Regions from separate parts of the Homo sapiens genome. Here region 1 is linked to region 2. The links come from fine-mapping of genetic effects on gene expression. A gene starts in region 2. The other region holds a variant in brackets. All regions are shown on one strand. Distances are from middle to middle.

Region 1 (10,251 bases), 36 kb before region 2:
AAAAAAGGAAACCATTTCAGTTCCTTTTATTTCCCTATCGCAAGCTGTGCTGCTGAGTTAAAAATATGTAATTTAGTTTCCAAATCTATTTCAACCCCTGCCTGGCCTACTGAGCAATCACAAACCATCCAATTTCAATTCAAATCTTTGCTTTTAGCTTTGTTTGAAATGGAACACAGCAAAGTTGTATAAACAGATATAAAGTAAATGCCCCACGAAGAGCAGAAGCAGGATTATAGGAACCAGGAAGTAAATCCATATTTATAGCCTACTAGTCAAAATCTGGATTGTTTTCATTTTATTTTTAAAATACCAAACTTTCCACAGAGTATCCAATACTATAGAAGGCATCTGATTTGTGGTATCTAAGAGTCTGTGCTAATGATGAAGTTTCTCATTGTTTTCAGTGGTACACATTTACAACTTCATATAAACAGAAAACACATTTTCTGCAGGTGAGAATCACTATTTCTCTGTCACATTTGGAATACTACACATTTACAGAGAATGACCCACTTCTAAAAAGTGAATCACATTTACCACAAACATTTATCAGCAAAGCCAAGAAACAAACAAACAAACAAACAAAACCCATATTATGCTATTTAGTAAATGTTTAAATGGTTAATCAATTGGTAATGCTGGGAGTAATGTTAATTCGACCCTTTCCCATAAAACTATAAAAATGTTTTCAGGTGGGTAATGCAGATCATTTGGCAGTGACAAATTAGATGACTAATAATGTCCTTGAGACGTTTAATAGAATTACGATTAACCAAAACCCAGTAATGGCTCACATATATTGTTTTCACTTATGTTATTGTCAATATTATGCAATGGGAGAGAGTAGATGGTAAAAAGGATCCATATACAATGGATCCCTTCTTCCTTTTGAATTACAGCTTGCATTATAGCCAGCTGGGCACATCTTATTTTAACTTTCAACATTTATAATCAAACAATATAGTTTCAGTTCTAACTTTTCACTTTGATTTATGTTTTGGTATATCAATTTTCTGATGAATATTTAAACTACATAGGACTGGATACTTTTCTTATTTTTTTTCTTCACTTGAAATGTCAAGTTTAAAACATTTATGGGCAGATAAATCCTCTTTTATTGATATAATATTGCCTTAAATGGTATCACATCATCTGAACGATTCTCCACAACACTATTTTTGATCTAAAATGGAAGATCATGCATTGACAAATGATTCACCCCTTTTCAGATTTGCATGAAGGCAAATGCAGTGTAGGCAACCTATCCCTGGAGAGGCAACATGAAAAGAAGCAGGAGAAAGTTTCATCCTTCTCATCTATCCTTATCAGTCAATATACAAATGCTGGCCCGGCGCGGCTCACGCCTATAATCCCAGCACTTTGGGAGGCCAAGAAGGGTGGATCACTTGAGGTCAGGAGTTCGAGACCAGCCTGGCCAACATGGTGAAACCCCATCTCTACCAAAAAATATATTTAAAAAAATTAGCCAGGTGTGGTGGCTTGCACCTGTAATCCCAGCTACTCTGGGGGCTGAGGCAGGAGAATCACTTGAACCTGGGAGCCAGGGGTTGCAGTGAGCCGAGATCACGCCATTGCACTCCAGCCTGAGTGACAGAGCGAGACTCCATCTCAAAGAAAAAAAAAGAAATATACAAATGCTGAATCAATACCCTCAATGACTTCCCATAACCTTCTCATAAAATCCAAGAAAATAATGGTTTGGAATTCAGAAGACCTGATCTCATCCTATCATTGATGTACTATGTGCCCTTATATACATCACTTTCCCTTTCTAAACCTCAGTGTCCCCATCTGTTAAATGAGACCAGATGCCAAAGAAACACCCAACTCTACTTTATCTGCCCATAAAGGTTTTAAACTTGACATTTCAAGTGAAGGCTAGAAAGAGTTTCTAGCCCCAGGCCATACTCCTACTTCACATCACAGGCAGTCCTGCTCCCCATTCTTACTTTCTCCATTCTCCCAACATGTCATCTCCTACACACCCTCAATAGGAGGTATAAAGTTGCTCCATGCTTCTAATATTAGATGATACTCATCACACAGCATCTGATACCATCCCCATCTGCACGGCTTTGTCTTTTAAATACACAGCCTGCTCTGGGTTTACATCCTTCTCCTCCTACTTACTAACTTGGAACTTGGACTCAATTTCCTTATCTGTAAAGTGGGGATGGTAATGGCTTTCAAAGCTTTGTTGTGAGGGTTAAACAGAGTGGTGATGCCTACAAAATGCCTGGTATATGTGAACATTTAATTAAATAAATACAATATTACTGGCTGTTATTATTGTTACCACTTGAATGTAAGCTCCTTTAAGGCAGAATCTCTATCCTGTTCAACTCAGTTGCTGAAGGGTAATTAGTGCAGTGTACTGTAAAAAACAGGGACTTTGAGATCAAAGGACCTGGGCCAAACCTATGAATGGGACCCTAGCAAGTCATTTGTCCTCGTTGAACTGGACTGAGAAGCTGTTTGAGGTTAAGAATTGTATCTTAATATTTCTGTGGACCTAGTACCTAGCGCAAAGCTTGCCACATAGATTTCCATTATATATGCAAAGGAAATATGAATATGAAAAACAGCAACAGTGCTGTTAATGGATGTACCTCTATTAAGTCCTTTATACTTATTTTGTTGAAGAAAGCAAGCTGGAACATCTCTAACTTTAAAGTCTTAGGAGGAAAGCAAATGACACATCACCAAAAAAGAAAGGGAAAAAAGAAAAGCATCCTGCTGTAGAAGAGAAAAGGAAAGGACTGGGTTCTCTAGCAGAGCAGGCAGCTTCATGCCCCAGATTTATGTCCCAGGTAGAACATTGGCCAAGGTTTTGGCATAGGCATGGACACGTGGGAGGATGAGGGACTTCGGTTCAGCTGCCTCCAATGCAACCTGCTCTGAGCGAAGTGGCCAGGTTCAGGGAAACTATTCTCAGCGAAGAGCGTCCAGGCAGCTGAGCCCAGAGTTCCCATTTTTGACTCTTCCTCTCCAACCTCCCCCACCCAGCAGTCAGGTCCCGGGAGGTAATTAGTGTGGGGGAGAGGCAAAGCTTCTGAGGGGGCAGGGAGATGGGAAAGTACGGGTGGAGGCGGTCTTCTTGTCATAGGTCTCACCAAGAGAGGAGAGATAGAAAGAGAGAGAGATTTATTTTTGCACGTGAGGCATACCTAATGATATTCCCACAGACAGACAGACAGGAAGACCAAGAGAGGGACAGACAGGACACACTTGCGCGTTTGAAATCGTTCATACCCCCAAATCCAGGACGCAGCCTGTTGTCATAACCATCGAGCAAACTGTCCAGGATGCGGGTGAAATTTTCTGTGCACAATTTCTCCTCCTTTTGGTTCTGTCCTGGGGATTCGTTTAAACTGCAAGCGAAAAAAAAAAAACCGGGGGCGGAGGAGATTATTTTAAGAATCCATCAGAGAACAGGTGCAAACAGGTTTGTTTTCTAGGGAAAGAGTCGCTTGCCCCAAGCTAAAGGAGAGGAGGTTGGGGGTTGGGATGCAGAAGACAGAAATGGTCAGGAAAAGCGCGCCCCGCCGCAAGACCCCCAGTGCCCACACGCCTCTTGGATCCTGCGCCCTTGGTGCTCTCCGCATCTATGCGGTCACAGAAAAGCCTGGCTTCGGCCCCTGCTCTTACAGCTGAGATAAGAAGACCTAGTCCACCCAGGGAGGAGCGAGTGGCCAAAGGGGTCCCGGAGCTAGCCATTTCTCCACTTTCCGTTGCCCACCTCCTCGCACCCCAGAGAACTCACCAAACCGCCAGGCACAGGAAGCGCAGGAGGGCGAAACTGACCCCGGCGGACAGAGCGATCGCGGGTACCTTCTTGGCAGAAACCATCTTTGCAACATGCCATACTTCAAGCCTGTTCACGTTTCCAGGCTCTTCAGATGCCCTGAGCAGGGTGCGAGGAGAGGGCAGAGAGGCTCCCGCGGCGTGCGCACACTCGCGCTCACACTCGCCCGCGCTCAGCCAGCCCGAGCCGCGGTGGGCGTGTGTGTGCACGGGGCCAGGGGAGGCGGAACCTGCCTTCCTCGCCCCCTCCTTTCTCGCTCAGCGCTCAATGTGTATGTAGAGCTATGTATACCGCTCCACACCCTTTCGTGCCCGCGCGCTGAAGGTTCTGGGGTTCGTATCCGCGCGCTTGCGCTGCAAGACTCGGCAAGTTTGTTCCGACTGTAACTCCGGGGATGAGGAACGGGGTCTCTCGCCCCTCCTCCGGCTTCGCAGCCCCCGACCCCAAGTGGGCTCCCCGCCCACAGCAGTGTTCGTCCTCCTACCTCCTGGCCCCCTCCCTTCCGCTGGGATTTGGATCTAACCAATGAAGCTCCTCTGTCATCAGGTTGTGCGAGGACCTGTTTGTACCCAGAGTCAAGGTTGGAGGTGGAGAAAGGGCGGGTGACGGGGACTGCTGGGCGTCGGGTGGTAGCGGTGGTGAGGAGAGGGGATCAAGTCCGGGCTCAAACCACCTTTGAGACCCTCCCATTCAGGTGTTATGGGGGGCGGTAGGGAGAGCAATGAAAGCAGAAAGATTCTTCCTGGTAACAGGGGTTGCAGCTCACCCGGCGGACTCTCGCCAAACTATTGGGAAGTGGACTCGAGCCGCACTCTAGTCCCAGTATTTGCTAAGCTATTGCTTTAAAGACACCCCATTTCTTTACCCGCCTCCACCAGACACGCGCACACCCTCCGCTTTGCTGCTCCATCCTTTTCTGGAGAGGAGGGGAGAGGTGGAG[A/G]CAAGCGACCTCTGGTCAAAATCACTTTCACTTCTTGCGACACTCTTCTTTTTCAGAATGGAGTTGACTTACTTCCAGAGGTTGACTGCTTTAGGTAGGGGGAAAGGACGGCTGGAGAGAGAGTGGGGGGGGAAAGAGAAAATGTGTGTGTGTGTGTGTGTGTGAGAGAGAGAGAGAGAGAGACAGAGAGAGACAGAGAGAGAGAGAGAGAGAGAGGCAGAAGGTGGGGTATGGAGAGAAAGGATACATAAATTAAAATGGAGGGGGACAAATATTAGTTCCCTTGTGACATGAAAGGGAACACTAAGCTCCATATCTTTACTGTTTTACTGAGCAAAGATAAGCATTCCCAATAGATCTTTGGAAACATTAATTATTGGCTCCAAGGGGGAAAAGCGTCTTTCAAATTAGTAATGATGCATGTGGAAATTTTCATATGATGGATCAATGAGCTAAGTAATTCCCATACCTTGGAACCAAACACCAATTAGGTTCTAGTCGGAACTCTGATGATTTGTTCAAATTGAGATGACTAGTGGACGGGTATGAAGAGGGAACGCATTGTATTAGACAGGGGTTTTGGTTTTTTTGTGTGTTTTAAACGTCTGGATTCAAGTTTTCTTTCTAAGGGAAAGCCCAAAGTGCTCATCGTGGGCAGTAGCTAGAGCTCCGTGCTCTGTATTCTGTACTGCTTTCTTCATGGAATTTGTTAACTTCATCCTAATCCCATCTCTATCATTCTTTTCTCATAGACTGTGGTCTCTCTGAGGGCCTGGGCTAGGTAATTTTTGCTCATCTGTGTTTATTTTATCTGCTGTTACAGTGCATGGCACATAGAATGTCAATAAATATTTATTGAATGAACAATTAAACAAAGCAATGAATTGCTTGTTCTCAGATCCATCTTATAAATGTGGATGACTATCAAGCTCTCTCGTTTGGGAAAAATAGCGGAAGAACTAGTGTATCCTCCAAATATGCCATGAAAGCATTAGTCACCACAGATTCTCCACATATTATATTATTTCTCTAATCTTAATACTTTCCTACCTTTTTAAAAAGAGAATTTAGCTCTGTTGCCCAGGCTGGAGAGCAGTGGTACCATCATAGTGACTGCAGCCTCTACCTTTTGGGCTCAAGCAATCCTTCTACCTCAGCCTTCTAAGTAGTTGGAAGTACAGGTATGTGTCACCATGCTCTGTTAATATATTTTTATATTTTTGTAGAGATGTGGGGGCTCTGCGATGTCACCAGGCTACCCTCAAACTCCTGGTCTCAAGTGATCCTCCTGCCTCTGTCTCCCAAAGTGCTGGTATGACAGATGTAAGCCACCGCCTTACATTTGTAAGCCTTTTCCTATACTTTCTAAAACCTAAATTTGTATTTTCTAAACCACTTTCCCTTGCAATTTTCATTTTAAAAATACACATATCAAAAAATTAAGAAACCAAAATAATGGCTTTGGGGAAACAGTTACATATCGTATCTTTAAAATTCAAACTTAAAATCTGTGAAACTATTATATTCAAATTAAAAGAACATTCTTTCAGAGTAGCTACTTCCAGTTATATTTTTGTTAATTGGGTTATAGTATTTAAGTTCAGCTGAAGATAATACTAAAGGCATTTATATCTCTTCTCATTTTATTTCACAGTCTTTTATTTATGCCACTTTTGTATTACTTCAAGAAGATATATGTTGAATTTCACTGCCTGAAATCTTTAAAAAAATATTGCCTGCTAACTTGAGGTTTTTTTTTTTTTTTTAGAAATCTAACATTCTGAAAAGTTATAATTTACTTTAACTTATGAATATAAATATGCTATTGTTTCCCATGTAAACTCCTATTTGTGATAGCCCAGGATTGTCAGTGAATTATTATTATTGTCTGTGTAGCTGTGCAGAAATAGGAAGGTGTTAAAATCATACCTATACCTCTTTTTTTCTTTAAGTTGATATAAGCCTCTGATTACTAGGTTTAGCAGAATTTGAATTGGGCCCAAGTACACTATCCCCAAATATCATTATATTAAGCCAGTCACATTTTATAAATTTAACAAATGAGTTTACTTTGGATATAATAAGATGCAAATAATACAGATAACCCAACTGCTAACGTCTTAGGATGGACACTTTAAAGCCCACAGTGCCTATGAAATGCCCTGGAAATGAACACAAAATCTTGTGTTTATGTAAGTATGTGCATTTTCCTGTGAGACTTTATCTCTCATCAAGTTCTTATAGGCCATGGACAACTGTAGTATGGACCAACATTTTAATATAAAAGATAACTCAAATATTAGAACATTTGACCAAACAGGCGAATGAATATTTGTAGTTAATGTGTGATAAAAATCTCTATCCCATTTTATAAGCTTCCCCATTGCCAGTTTCTATAGACTGTCATGTAGATTGTAAGTCTCTTGCAGGTACTTGGTCCCATCTATTGTCAATTTATCATATGTCCAAAGAGCTTGGTATGCAAAATATTTGAGTGGTAATAAATTAAATAATCTGAAAGGATTCAACCTGTTCCTCTTTTCTTTCATTAATTCTTTCTGGTAAAAATTGAACCAATTGTAACCATTTGAGGAGGGTACTGATGTGAATTACTGCTTTAAATTCTGAAGGCTTGTAGATATAGGCCCAGTTTGAAATGCTCCTGTTCCAAGAATTTAGAAGCTATTGACAATTTTATGTTAATGTATTTCTCTGTCCCTCGTATTTTGCATAGGTGGGAAGAATTGATTTAATAGTCTCTTAGTTAATGCCTTTTCTCATTTGTATTAAAACAGTGTTTCCACTGAAATATTACCTGTATACCAGCCTACTATCATTGTCTAGTTATAGACTTTTTATCTTCACTCATTTCTTATTGTATGTATTTGAGGTATACAACAAGATGTTTTGATATAAATATATAGCAAAATGACTTTTACAGTCAAATTAACATATCCACCACCTTACATAGTTACCTTTTTGTGTGTGAGGATCGAGTACCTAAAATCTACTCTCTTAGCAAATTACTGTTCAGTGTGCAATGAAATATTATTAACTGTGGCCTCATGTTGTACATTAGATCTTATTATACATAACATATTATTATATAATATATAATAATAATAACTTTCTTATACATAACTATAACTTCGTACGCTTCAAGCTGTATCTCCTAAATTCCCCCCTACCATCCCTCCTTTGGTAACTACCATTCTACTCTCAGTTTCTATGTACTTGACTATTTATAGATTCCACAAATAAGTGAGATCATTTCATATTTATTTTTCTGTGCTATCTGTGTCTGGTCTATTTCACTTACTATATGTCCTCCAGGTTCATCCATGTTGTTGCAAATGGCAGTATCCCTTCTTTTACAAAGCTGTACATATAGATGTGTGTGTATATATATGTATGCACACACGTATATATATACACACACATATATATGCACACATACACATATACACATATACATATAACAGTTTCTTTATTCATTCATCCACTGATGGACACACATAGGTTGTATCCATATCTTGACTATTATGAATAATGCTGCAATAAACATTAGAGCTCAGATATCTCTACAAGATGCTGATTTTATTTCCTTTGGGTGTATGTTCAGAAGAGGGATTGCTAGGTCATCTGATGGTGCTATGTTTAGTTTTTTGAGGAACCTCCATATCGTTTCCACAATAGCTGTACCAGCTTACATTCCCACCAACAGTGTACAAGGGTTTCCTAATCTGGGGGAATTTAACATATTGTATTTGAGTAAACATTTCATAATACCAGTTAATACTGCTGTCAAAATAAGAATTTTTTGCCATATAGTTAATGCAGATTTAGATATTTCAGTGCAATTATTTGAAAAAAACAAAATTGTGACAATACTATTATCTGAATAAACTTTACACATGAAATTTGGAAAGTCACCTATTATAGTATGTATTTTAGATTATTAATTATTTTTTTATAATTTTCTGAGATCAAGTTGGACATTAAGACAATGTATCAATATTTAATAGTCTCCAAGATCTCACATTAATTTGAATTACATTCAGAAATATTAGTTATTCAATATTAGCTTTTGTTTTGTTTGAAAGTCTGAAGTTTTAAAATAGGTGGAGGCCAGCCAGGCATGGTAGCTCACGTGTGTAATCCCAGCACTTTGGGAGGCCGAGGTGGGTGGATCACGAAGGTCAGGAGATGGAGACCACCCTGGCTAACATGCCGAAACCCCGTCTCTACTAAAAATACAAAAAAATTAGCCAGGCGTGGTGGCAGGAGCCTGTAGTCCCAGCTACTCGGGAGGCTGAGGCAGGAGAATGGAGTGAACCCGGGAGGCGGAGCTTGCAGTGAGCTGAGATTGTGCCACTGCACTGCAGCCTGGGCCACTGAGCAAGACTCTGTCTAAAAAAAAAAAAAAAAAAAAAAAGTGGAAAGAATACAATTTAAGGGGATACAATCCAAGTAATACATTTAATAACTACTTTTAGGCTCAATTGAAAATGCCTAATAATGTGTGAAGCATTATTTTATTCATCAGACTTGAATTCTGAAATAAGCTCTCAGAATAAGTTTAGAAGTGCTACTCCAAAGAGCAGTGATTGTGTGTGTGAGATGGTGTGTGTGATCGTGTGTAATTAGTACTCTGTACTAATTACTACAAGAAACATTCCTTTAATTATGTTAGTGTATATGTATGGTATGTGCGAATTTTTAGTTTCTGAAAAAGATGATACTATTGTTAAGAAACACATTTATTTTCAGCACCTAATAGTAATGGTTTGCAAGGATAATTTATGCATTACCGATAGTGCCCCAAATTAACCCATATAGTTTATTTAGAGGGGATACACAAAGATGTAAATACTGGAGGTATGATTCATTTGATGGCCATTTAAACATTGTTAAATTTGTTGCCAAGTGCCTATTTTATGATGAATATAATGTCATGTCTTGTTTCAAGACTGATAAGGGACTAATAGAACCACTTTGGAAAGCAGTTTGCCAATATATTTAAGTTTAACATATTCATACCATATGACCAAACCATCTAATTTAAATTTTATAGCTCCAAGAAACTCTCAAACATGTTCATGAGGAGACATCTAAAATATGTTACGTTGTTTGTAATAGTGGAAACTTAGAAACAAATTAAATGTCATTTAACAGGGAAGTGGATACATTACATTGTGGTGTAAAGAGAGAACTAGACAACAATTAAAATAAGGAAATAAGATATATGTTTCAATATAAATATATCAGGAGTAAATGTATACAAAAGAAGCAAGAGGCAAAACAAAGAAATCATTCTCCAAAGAGCTGAAGAGACCAGTGACTGACAGAAATTGTTTAGTTTACAAGATAACAAATAAAAAAAGAAACAGTGCTAAAACTCCTTCTGCTTATAAGATAACAAAACTAGCTAAAATGGATTAATGCCAATATGACTGTTGAAATAGACTTTGCAGAGAACAGA
Region 2 (10,127 bases):
TCACAATTTTTTTATCCACTCATTGATTGATGCGTATTTGGGTTGGCTCCACATTTTTGGAATTGCAAATTGTGCTTCTATAAACATGCGTGTGCAAGTATCTTTTTCATATACTGATTTATTTTCCTCTGGGTAAATACCCAGTAGTGGGATTACTTGATCAAATGGTAGTTCTATTTTAGTTCTTTTAGGAATCGCCACACTGTTTTCCATAGTGGTTGTACTAGTTTACATTCCCACCAGCAGTGTAGAAGTGTTCCCTTTTCTGCATCCATGCCAATATCTATTATTTTTTGATTATGGCCATTCTTGCAGGAGTAAGGCGGTATTGTATTGTGATTTCGATTTGCATTTCAGGGAGAGGATAGTTTTATAAACTTGAATTTTTTTTCCACAGAAAGTAATTAGATTATTTCTTAATTAATTACTGTCACTATGTCATATTCTCAGTCCAGGTTTTTCTAAATTTTTCTTTAAATCTATCTTAAAATAATTTTAATGACAACAAAATAAAAATGACAGATTAGCAATGTTCTTATCTCAGTTAATTAATGAAGAATATGTATTTAACATGAGGCAGAGTAAAAGAAGTTTTTTTCCCAAACAAATCCCCAGATTTCTTTTGCTAATCTTGTCTTGCTTAGCTATAAATTGGAAACATACCTCTCACCATCTTACTCCATTCCTATCCTCTTCTCATTATCCCCTCTCCTCTCACCACTGCAAACATAATTTTGTTCAATTCTGCCTTTACTACTTCCGTTTTTTTTGTAATGCCATCAACTTTAAAACTCAAAGCCTTTACTTGTGCTTTCCACCTGTTCTAACTCCTCCCAAATTCTCAACTTGGTGAATTTCAAGATCTAGCAGAAAGTTTCAACTCTATTGAGGTGTCTTCCCTGATATTCCAAGGCAAGAAAAAATGTTTTTGCTGGCCGCAATGGCAGCTACTCTGAAGGCCGAGGTGGGAGGATCTCTTGAATTCAGGAAGTTTGAGATCAGCTTAGGCAACATAGTGAGACCTTAGTGTAAAAATAAATAAATAAATAAATAAAAAGTCCTTTTCACGTTTCTAGCATTTTTTATTATATATTGGTGATTTGGGTGCCCTTGCCCCAACAGTTTGTATCACTTATTGTTGCATAGTTCTAAAAATGTTTTTAAATACACTCACGAATAAATGAATTAGCGCAAAGTTTATATGTTCAGCTGGAAAGTGTTCACCAGATAATCACCGGGTTGTTTGTTTTGTTCTCCAGTTAATATCAGGCACTAAATATTTATTTTATAAAAGAAGATAAAAATTATAGTTTCTACTAAACAACAACAGTAAACAGTAAAATCTATTTTACTATAAAATATGTAAAAACACATTAACACAGATATAAATGGCAACACTTTTTAAATGATGCTCTACAAACAATATATTACCGGTAACAGGCTTAATAGTCCTCATTCTCTGTGACTTTTCCTGACCCACAGCATTACAGGGACCAACTAGAGGGCACAACACTGCAAATCAGGATTTGCAGAGTATCCTTCATAAGATTCTACTTGGATAGCATGGTCTTCTGTACTCAAATACAAATTCTTTACGTAATTTGGGCTTCTTCTAAAATATAAATCACTAATAACATATGTTAAACCCTAAATGCATTTAATTATACAGGAGAAGTTGCAAAAGCATTTAATTATCTCAGTAGAGGTTAAAATATATTTTATGCTGGCAACATTTTTCATAATTAATAACGTACTAGAAAAGAATGTAAACTGTCATTAGACTATTTGAATTTGAATTTTGTCTCTCATTTTTTGTTTGACCTTGGATAAGTTACTTTCTGTGTTTAAGTGTCTTCATCTTTAAAACAGAACTAATTATATATCCCTACCTCTTAAGATATTATGAACACTAGATATGTCAAGTGTTTAAAATAGTGCTGATAAATAATAAGCCTATTAAAATGTTAACTATACTTATTAATGCAATGGTAACATTTTAATAAAAGTAATGGCTTAGAACATCTCTTTATTAGTAAGATAGAGCGTACATTTTGAAACAAAATATCATATTTATTTGGCTAGAATTATACCTGAAAGGAGCAATGAATATCCTTATTATCACCACAATTTATCAAACAGTAAAAATATCATAAATAATAATTTGAGAAGACATTCCAAAAAGAATAAACCCAGAAAAAATTGCAATATGAATTTTTAAATATAATATGAAAATTGTTACATAACAGGAAGTAAAAATAAAAAGAGGTAAAAATATACTTGGCTTATTACATGATACAAGTTTTATCCTCAAAGGTCCATGCTATAATATATAAATAAGAAGAGCTGAAAAATGCAAAGTGAAAAATGCATTTTCATATAGCTAAAGTATATTAAATAGCTGGCTATTAATATAACCTGAAACACAAGAATTTTTTTTTAAAGAAAATAATATATCACTAGAGGATAAATTGATATGCAAAAAGTGAAGTGGTGCCATTCCTATTAACACAGGTTAAAATGACTTCTTAAGTTAATTAGAATATTTAATGCAATATAAAAATAACATGAGATTTTTAGATTGTATTAAATTAATGCTATACTTAAGCTAGAAAATAAAGTATGTAAACATAACAAAGGATATGTAAATATCTTGAAAAGCAATAATGGTGTTGCTGCCTTATCAAAATTCATACTTTTCTAACAATGAGTGATTATAATAAAATTATATCATATTAGGTTAAATCAGAAAAACTGATCAATTGAACAGAAGGCAAATGCCACCAATACATGCATCCAATAACATATTATATTACTATTAGTATTACAAATCATCCTTAAAATAAATTGTGGCAATTTATACTGTCCCCAAAGTATATGAAATTGTATTTTTCCACAGCTTCCATGATACTTAAGGTTAAACCATTTTAAACTAGCAAACCAACAAGTGAAAATGGTACTTCATATCTATTTTAAAAATTGTATTCATTTGATTACTACTGAGCTTGAAACTTTACAATATATTTATTGGTCACTTAATTATTTTTTTAAATATTTTCTATTTTTTAAAAAGTTTTGCAGGTACATACTAGGTGTGTATGTTTATGGGGTACATGAGATGTTTTGATATAGATATGTTACGTGAAATAAGCACATCATAAAGAATGAGGTATCCATCCCCTTAAGCACTTATCCTTGAAATTACAAACAATCCAAATACACTGTTTATGTTATTTTAAAATGTACAATTAAGTTACTGACTACAGTCACCCTACTCTGCTATCAAATATTAGAGATTCTTTGGTGAAATGCTTGTTACAATTGTTTGCTCATTATTTATTAGACATTTATTTCTCTCATTGATTGGCATAAACATTTTAAAATATAAATTGCAAATGTATCTCCTAATTGGTCACTTCGTTATCAGTTTTGATCAGCTTTTTGTAAAATATTTCAAATATCTAGAAATATATGGAGAGTAGAATGATGAACACCCACATATCATGTTGTGGCTAATTGGAATGAAATTTTTTTGATAAAATATTGTAGATTCATTTGAACCTTAAAGTGTGGTATCCTTCTTATTTTTGTTCTCTATTCTGTGTATGTGTATATATATACATACACACACAAACACACACCCCGACACATACATATACACCATATATATGTATATGTGTATATATGTGTATATATATGTATATATGGTATATATACATATATATGGTGTATATGTGTATATATGGTATATATACCATATATATATATATGGTGTATATGTACATAATATATCTTTTGGGTTTTACACTTAAATATTTTAAAATTTATGTTATCATGGCTCATTATATCATTCTGCACCTTGCTCTTGTTTCGTTTTTGCTCAGTGTTTTACTTCTGGGATTTGTCAGTGTAGAAGCATGTAGACATTCAACTATTTTGACTGTTGTATTACATTGTGTGATTATATTCCTATTTATTTCCAATTAATAAAAATTGTTGCCAGTTTTGCACTACTAAAAACAACACTGCCATAAATATTCTTAGACTGCATGAGTTTATCACTAGGGTATATTCTGAGTGGTAGCAATTCTGGGCCAAAGAGCATGGGCATCTTTGACTTTACTAGTATGTCCAAAGAGTGGTACAAAGTGTTTAGATCAATTTATATGTCTACTGAAAATATATGGAGTTTTAAAAGCCAATTTTTAATATTCTTAAGTTTTGCATATCTCATGAGTTTAAAATAGTGTACAATTCCTTTAATTTGCAATTCCTTATTTAGAGTGGCTTTTGATCTTTTCTTATTTACTTCTGGAAGTTTTTTTTTCTGGTAATTTCTTTATACAAACCTTCTGATGGTTAAATTTGCTGAAAACATGTTCTTTCTATGTATAACTTGACTTTTCAGAAGAAGCTTTGGATTTAAAGAAGGTTACATTTTAACATAGTTATCGCAATAATCTTTTTTATCATTTATAACTTTGTTCATCTTTAGATCTTTCCTTTTATCACAGTCATAAAGATATTCTCCTATATAGTTTAAAGTTTTGAAAGTTTTGTTTTTTGTATTAAAGTTACGTATCTACCTGTAATATATTTTCATGTATGTAATGATGTAAAGATCTACTTTTTTCCCTTATGGATAATAAATTGTCTTGCAACATTTATTGAGTAGCTCATCTTTTCCTACTTCTCTTAAAATAGAGGAGTATTTCTGTGCTCTCTATTTGCTCGTACTATTTTGCTTTTTATCCCTACATGAATTCCATGCCAAAGACAAACTGATTCAGTTTCTATATAGCACAATAATGTCTTGATATCTCAAAGGCAAATGCCCCCATATTCCTTCTCTTTTTTTCTTCTTCTTCTTCCAGGTTTTCTTGGCTTTTATTTACCCCCTCATTCTTCTATTTGAATTTTGGAATTAGTTTATTCATTTCCATTTAGAATGTAGGAATTTTGATTCAAATTGGTTATATTTCTTACATTGGATAGAATTGACATCCTTACAATGTTGAGTCTTCCCAATTACCCATATGGTACATTTTCCATTTATCTAGGTCATATTTTGTGTATTTAAATAATGTTATGTACCTTCACTCTAAACTTCTTGTGCATATTTTTCCCCCAGTTATTCCTAGGTACATTAGAATTTTTTGTTATTATTGTAATGGAATAAATTTTTCTATTACGTTTTTTTGTTTGGTAACTCCTGTGTAGGGAAATACTAAGAATATGCATAAGTTTCTTGACCTTGAGACACTTCCATCCTAGTTAGAAGCTAATTTTTAAGCTGTCTCCTCTTTCCCTCATAAAAGTAAGCAGCAGACTATAATAGGAGTAGGGATTACAATTCGCTTTACTTACACTTGTGTGTGTCCCTCTCCCATTAGATGTGAATTTCTCTAGGACAAGAACCCTTTTTGAATCAGTTATAAGTCCCAGAATGCCCACAACAAAATTTAATATATACTATTTAACAAAAGAACAAACACCTAGTCCAGGGCCTTCTGCCTAACATGTGCTCAATGACATTTGTAGAATCGAAGTTACTGAATTTGATTTAATTCAAACAATACTTGCTCCTGCAGAATCCCAACCTACTGGCGAACAGAGGTTAAACTGTCTGGATGTTTCAGAGTTCTGCTAGGGGTCACAAATACCACCTTAAATGCTGTCAATTTAAGAAGGAGATTTTTCTTATCACAACCTGGAGGATAAGTGGGGCTTGCAGTGGATGGCCCTAGAAAAAAAGATTGCCTGCCCAGAACTGCTGCTGGATCCTTTGTTTCCCTCATTTCCCAACCTGGATGAAAAACGACAAGGGGAGGGAAGAAAAGTGGGGTGGAAGAAAAGTTGGCTTGCCCCTCCTACTCTGCCTCCTACAGAAGTCTACACCAAGCCAGATGTCCTAGGATGCCTCCCAAGGGCACCTAATTTTTGGAGTTCTCAAATACGTCCTGAGTTTCCTCTGTACCTTTAGTAACTCTCCCGTTCCCTCTCTCTCCACTCTTCCCTGCTCCCAGTCACCCCCACCCACAACCCCCGCTGATCACATCCTCCCGGTGCCCGCCACAGGCAACCAGAGAACAACAGACCCTCCTCCAGAGTCCCCGTTCTAGGACCTCCCTGACTGTCAACGAAAGATGCCAATCACAGGCAGCCTTAGCCAGATCACTGAGCGCCCAGTAAAAAAAACAAAATCAGGTTGAGGGCAGAAATGAAATCAACATAGCAACCTCCAATGCATGAAGGAAACTCCGTTTACACATGCTCGTAGGATCCCCTGCGTGGAAACAGCAGCTTGTCTCTGACTACCCGGAGGACATGGAGCACCCCAAATAGGAACTTTAGAGGGATTGAAATCTGTTGCCTGTTCCACTAGGAATATTGTTTGCAAGGCACAAGGTGTCTTTTGGTAGTGAGCGCGCTCTGCGCATGCGCAGGTCCATTCGGGAATTACTGCCCAGCAGCCGACTAAGTTGCATTCCTTGAATCTTCGCAGAAAAGACAATTCTTTTAATCAGAGTTAGTAATGTGGACAGTACAAAATCGAGAGAGTCTGGGGCTTCTCTCTTTCCCTGTGATGATTACCATGGTCTGTTGTGCACACAGGTGAGCTGCTGTTGTTGAATCTCGCTCTCTCTCTCTCTCTCTCTTTTTTTCTTGGTATGTTTCTTTTTACGTGTCTGCTGGATCATGTATCTTGTTGTTTGGGGGTAGGTGTGCCTGTATCTTTTTATATGTGCTCACAGTTTGTGCTCATTTTGAATACGGTCCCTACTTCTTCCCCTTAGCACCAATGAACCCAGCAACATGTCATACGTGAAAGAGACAGTGGACAGATTGCTCAAAGGATATGACATTCGCTTGCGGCCGGACTTCGGAGGTAACGCTTCATCTTTTTTCAACCTGTAACCCATCCTTAGTTCTCCTTTTCTGTCAAAGATAAATGTCAAAAAAAAAAAAAGAAAAGGCATGTCATTTTCGTAAGCGTGCACTATACCCTGGGCACACACACACACACACACACACACACACACACCCCGGGTCCCCAGTCTCAGGTGGATGAATCCTCAGGCGGAGGCGACCTTCTCCCGGGCCGACACACCCTCTGCATAGTCACTGCATCACGCGTGTGCCCACACCTGTTTTCCCAGGCAGTCCCCTGAAAGGGGTGGTGGGGGGAGCAGGGAGGGAGCCCGTTAAGAATGGAGTAAGGGCTGGGAAGCCCCCAGACCCTCCCCAGCCTGCTGTCACTGAGAGAATCTGTTCCTAATGTGGCCCACCTCCCCGGCAGGGCCCCCCGTCGACGTTGGGATGCGGATCGATGTCGCCAGCATAGACATGGTCTCCGAAGTGAATATGGTGAGTGGCCTCCCGAGGGGCCCGGCGGTTCGGCTTACGCAGATGGGAAATGGACAGGTCCCTTTGCCCTCTGCGTTTCATTGGCGGTCACCTCGCCCCTGGCCCCTGAGGTCCCACTCCGCACCCGCTCCCCGCTCCGGCACACACACCCGGTCGCCCCTGGTTTGTAATTTCGACACACACGGGCTACTGCGGTGTTCCAGGGGAAACGTGCTCGGCACTATTTTGGGAAGGACGAGTGACTGTTGCGCCGTGGATCTGCTGGGGCGGAGTCTGAGCGTTACTTTAGCTGGGTTTCCCTGCGTGTTTGGATGAGGAGGGCACCATCTGCTGGCAGCCGGGCGGCCTGCACTAGGGTCCCCGGACCGGTGGTCGGCAGCCATCACCTCCCCAGGCGCGGTGCTGGCAATCCCCATGGCCCTCGCAGTCCGCGAGCCCGGATGCACCAAGGCCCTGCCACCGAGAGCACAGTCTGGGTTTCAAAGTGTCCTCTCTCTCCAGGTTCAGGCACACCTGGTGGCAGGAGCAACAGGCTAAGACAACAGTCCATGTTTGCTAGTAGGAAAAGTGCCCGAGCCTGGGTAGGCTTGTATTGTTCTCTTGCGGGAGGTTATGAATTTGTCTTACTGCATCTTGCAAATTTAAGTTGAAACAGAATAAATCAAGTCATATTGCTTCACCTTACTCTAGAAACCTAAGCATGCCTAAAAATCCTGATAATTTAAGGGACGTTGGAAGGGAGAGGGGGCGACAGTAACACAGCACAGTCCTTTCATTTCAAAGGGGTCAACATTCTTTTATATATTTCTTCCCTCTCTTTTTGGAAGCTATTGCAAAATGAACTGAAATAGCTGCCACTTTCTCTGTTGGCTGGTTCCGTCCACTGTGTGTAGGAGTTTTCTACTTAGAGTTTCTAACTGTTGCTTCTCGTAAGACGGAAAAGCCTGTTGCTTTTCTAGAATCAACCACCCAGGGAACAGCTAGATCTACGTGAGCAAAATGCCATTTTTATTCCACTTGTGAAAAAATGTTATGGCGGCAGAAATTTATAAATCCTGAATAATTTAAAGAGTAAAACCATTTGAGATTGTATCACTCTATGGCTATAAAGGCTATTGAATTGTCTTTCATTTCATTCCTACTGTGTCGTTTTATTTTAATATACTATGGTTTAAGAATTCTTTTCTTTTCCTTTTTAGGTTATGTTAGGGTCGAAATAAATATGTCTATAGCTTATTGAATAGGAATAGAATAAAAAGTGTGACTATTTAATTTCTGTATTTTGTAGTTGTAGCGGCTCCTGCTTCAAATAACGTATTTAAAATACTATTTGTAAATGTCTCTGATTGTCGTGCTGGAAAAAGAAACTCAATTTTAAAAACGTAATACACAATGAATATTTCTCATTTGGCAAACTGACTTATTATATTCTGTTTACATACATGTTAACACCACAAAGTAACCCAAAACATATTATTTAGAAACACTCTGAGGAATGTAATAATATGTGCCTAATCTACACGAATGCAACTGGACAAATTAGACAATGAATTAGTTTAACAAGTTGTATCATGTAGATTAATAATGTTAATATTTTTCCTTTTCAATCATTTCCTTTGGTATCTTGTAAGCATCCACAGATAATTGATAAAATAGAAGATTTAAAAAGCTCAAAAAGCAAATGCAGCCTTTGTTCTACCTTGCCGTGTAGAGTGTCATGCTTTTCAGAATTTTAAAAAATATATAATTCTGTTGGCTATATTGACATACCCCTTTTCAGTTTTTTTTAAAACTCAATTAAATAGGGAAGTTGCTGCAATCAACAACCACCGTAACAAAAAGTTCTGTATAATTAGTTGTTCAACTGAATTCATACATAAGCTCAGAACAAGGATTGACTTTAATTGAAATACCACTGGACATTTCTTCCTAATGATTAAATAATACAGTCTGTTTACTCACAGCAACACGTGTGTATGCACTTGATTTTTCAAAAGTATTCACCCAGCTGATAAGCCTTTGAAAATACCTGTTCTACTACAATCCCCATTACCTTTCCACAACAATGTTACAGACATGATTAGAAAATAGAAACCACTCAAAGTTGAAAAATAATAAACCTTGATTTACTTGTTCTTTCTTGTTTCTCCTTTTAATGAGCACTATCAACAGAACCCAAAGTTTATTTTATCTTCTGTCATCTATGACAAAACATTGAAATAAATAGATTGGAAATAACTCCAAGAAAAATGGAAATAAAGAGTAATGTTTTTAAAATTGAGGGTTCTGTATAAACACAACTCAGATGGTTAGCCCGCACCCCCAAAAGAGAATTGTTTATTATATGTTGTGATATTTAGCTAATATAAATAGGGTAGGAAGTCCATGGAAAATAAGACTTATTGCTTATTGCTTTTTGTATTAAGCATGTTTCGGTGCCCTGATAGGCAGTAACTTGAGTAATTTAATAGAAAATTTTCATCTACATTAAATGACAAGAATATAACAAAGAGAATGGACAATAATATCATAAAAATAGTTTTTAAGAAAATGCAAGTTGAATCAATTTCCAAAACATTGCTTATATTTATGTTTTTATTTATTACCATTATTACCCATTCCATGGCTGGGAAAATGACATAATTGTGCATTAAATTAGTAGATTTGAGAACTAGGTTCCATTCATTTTTGTTCTTTACCATTGCTTCCCCAAGTAAAATATAATCCCTGATTGGTTTACACATTGTCTGCTTTACAGACTA

Which allele goes with the higher level. Alleles are on the strand shown, and positions count from the first base shown. SD is a standard deviation of normalised expression in the study named.
As copies of A replace G in region 1, the expression in left ventricle of the gene that starts at base 6,448 in region 2 goes up (small effect, 0.38 SD a copy in GTEx).

What was found. PIP is the estimated chance that this variant, and not a neighbour inherited with it, causes the effect. A credible set is the group of variants that fine-mapping cannot tell apart.
Region 1: its variant is the best candidate, but not a certain one, in a credible set for the expression of GABRB1 in left ventricle (GTEx, PIP 0.58).

Annotation. Positions count from the first base shown.
Region 1 is chr4:46,989,552-46,999,802 of GRCh38, forward strand. GABRA4 (gamma-aminobutyric acid type A receptor subunit alpha4) reads right to left here and starts at 4,030. Exons shown (of 9, transcript NM_000809.4): 1 at 3,788-4,030; 2 at 3,277-3,395. The coding sequence starts at 3,873. It also overlaps a transcript of GABRB1 not described here. RefSeq lists a silencer at 3,961-4,255 and an enhancer at 4,417-4,486. The variant A/G (reference allele first, on the strand shown) is at 4,770.
Region 2 is chr4:47,025,120-47,035,246 of GRCh38, forward strand. It overlaps GABRB1 (gamma-aminobutyric acid type A receptor subunit beta1), which reads left to right and starts at 6,448. Exons shown (of 9, transcript NM_000812.4): 1 at 6,448-6,612; 2 at 6,795-6,886; 3 at 7,298-7,365. The coding sequence starts at 6,533.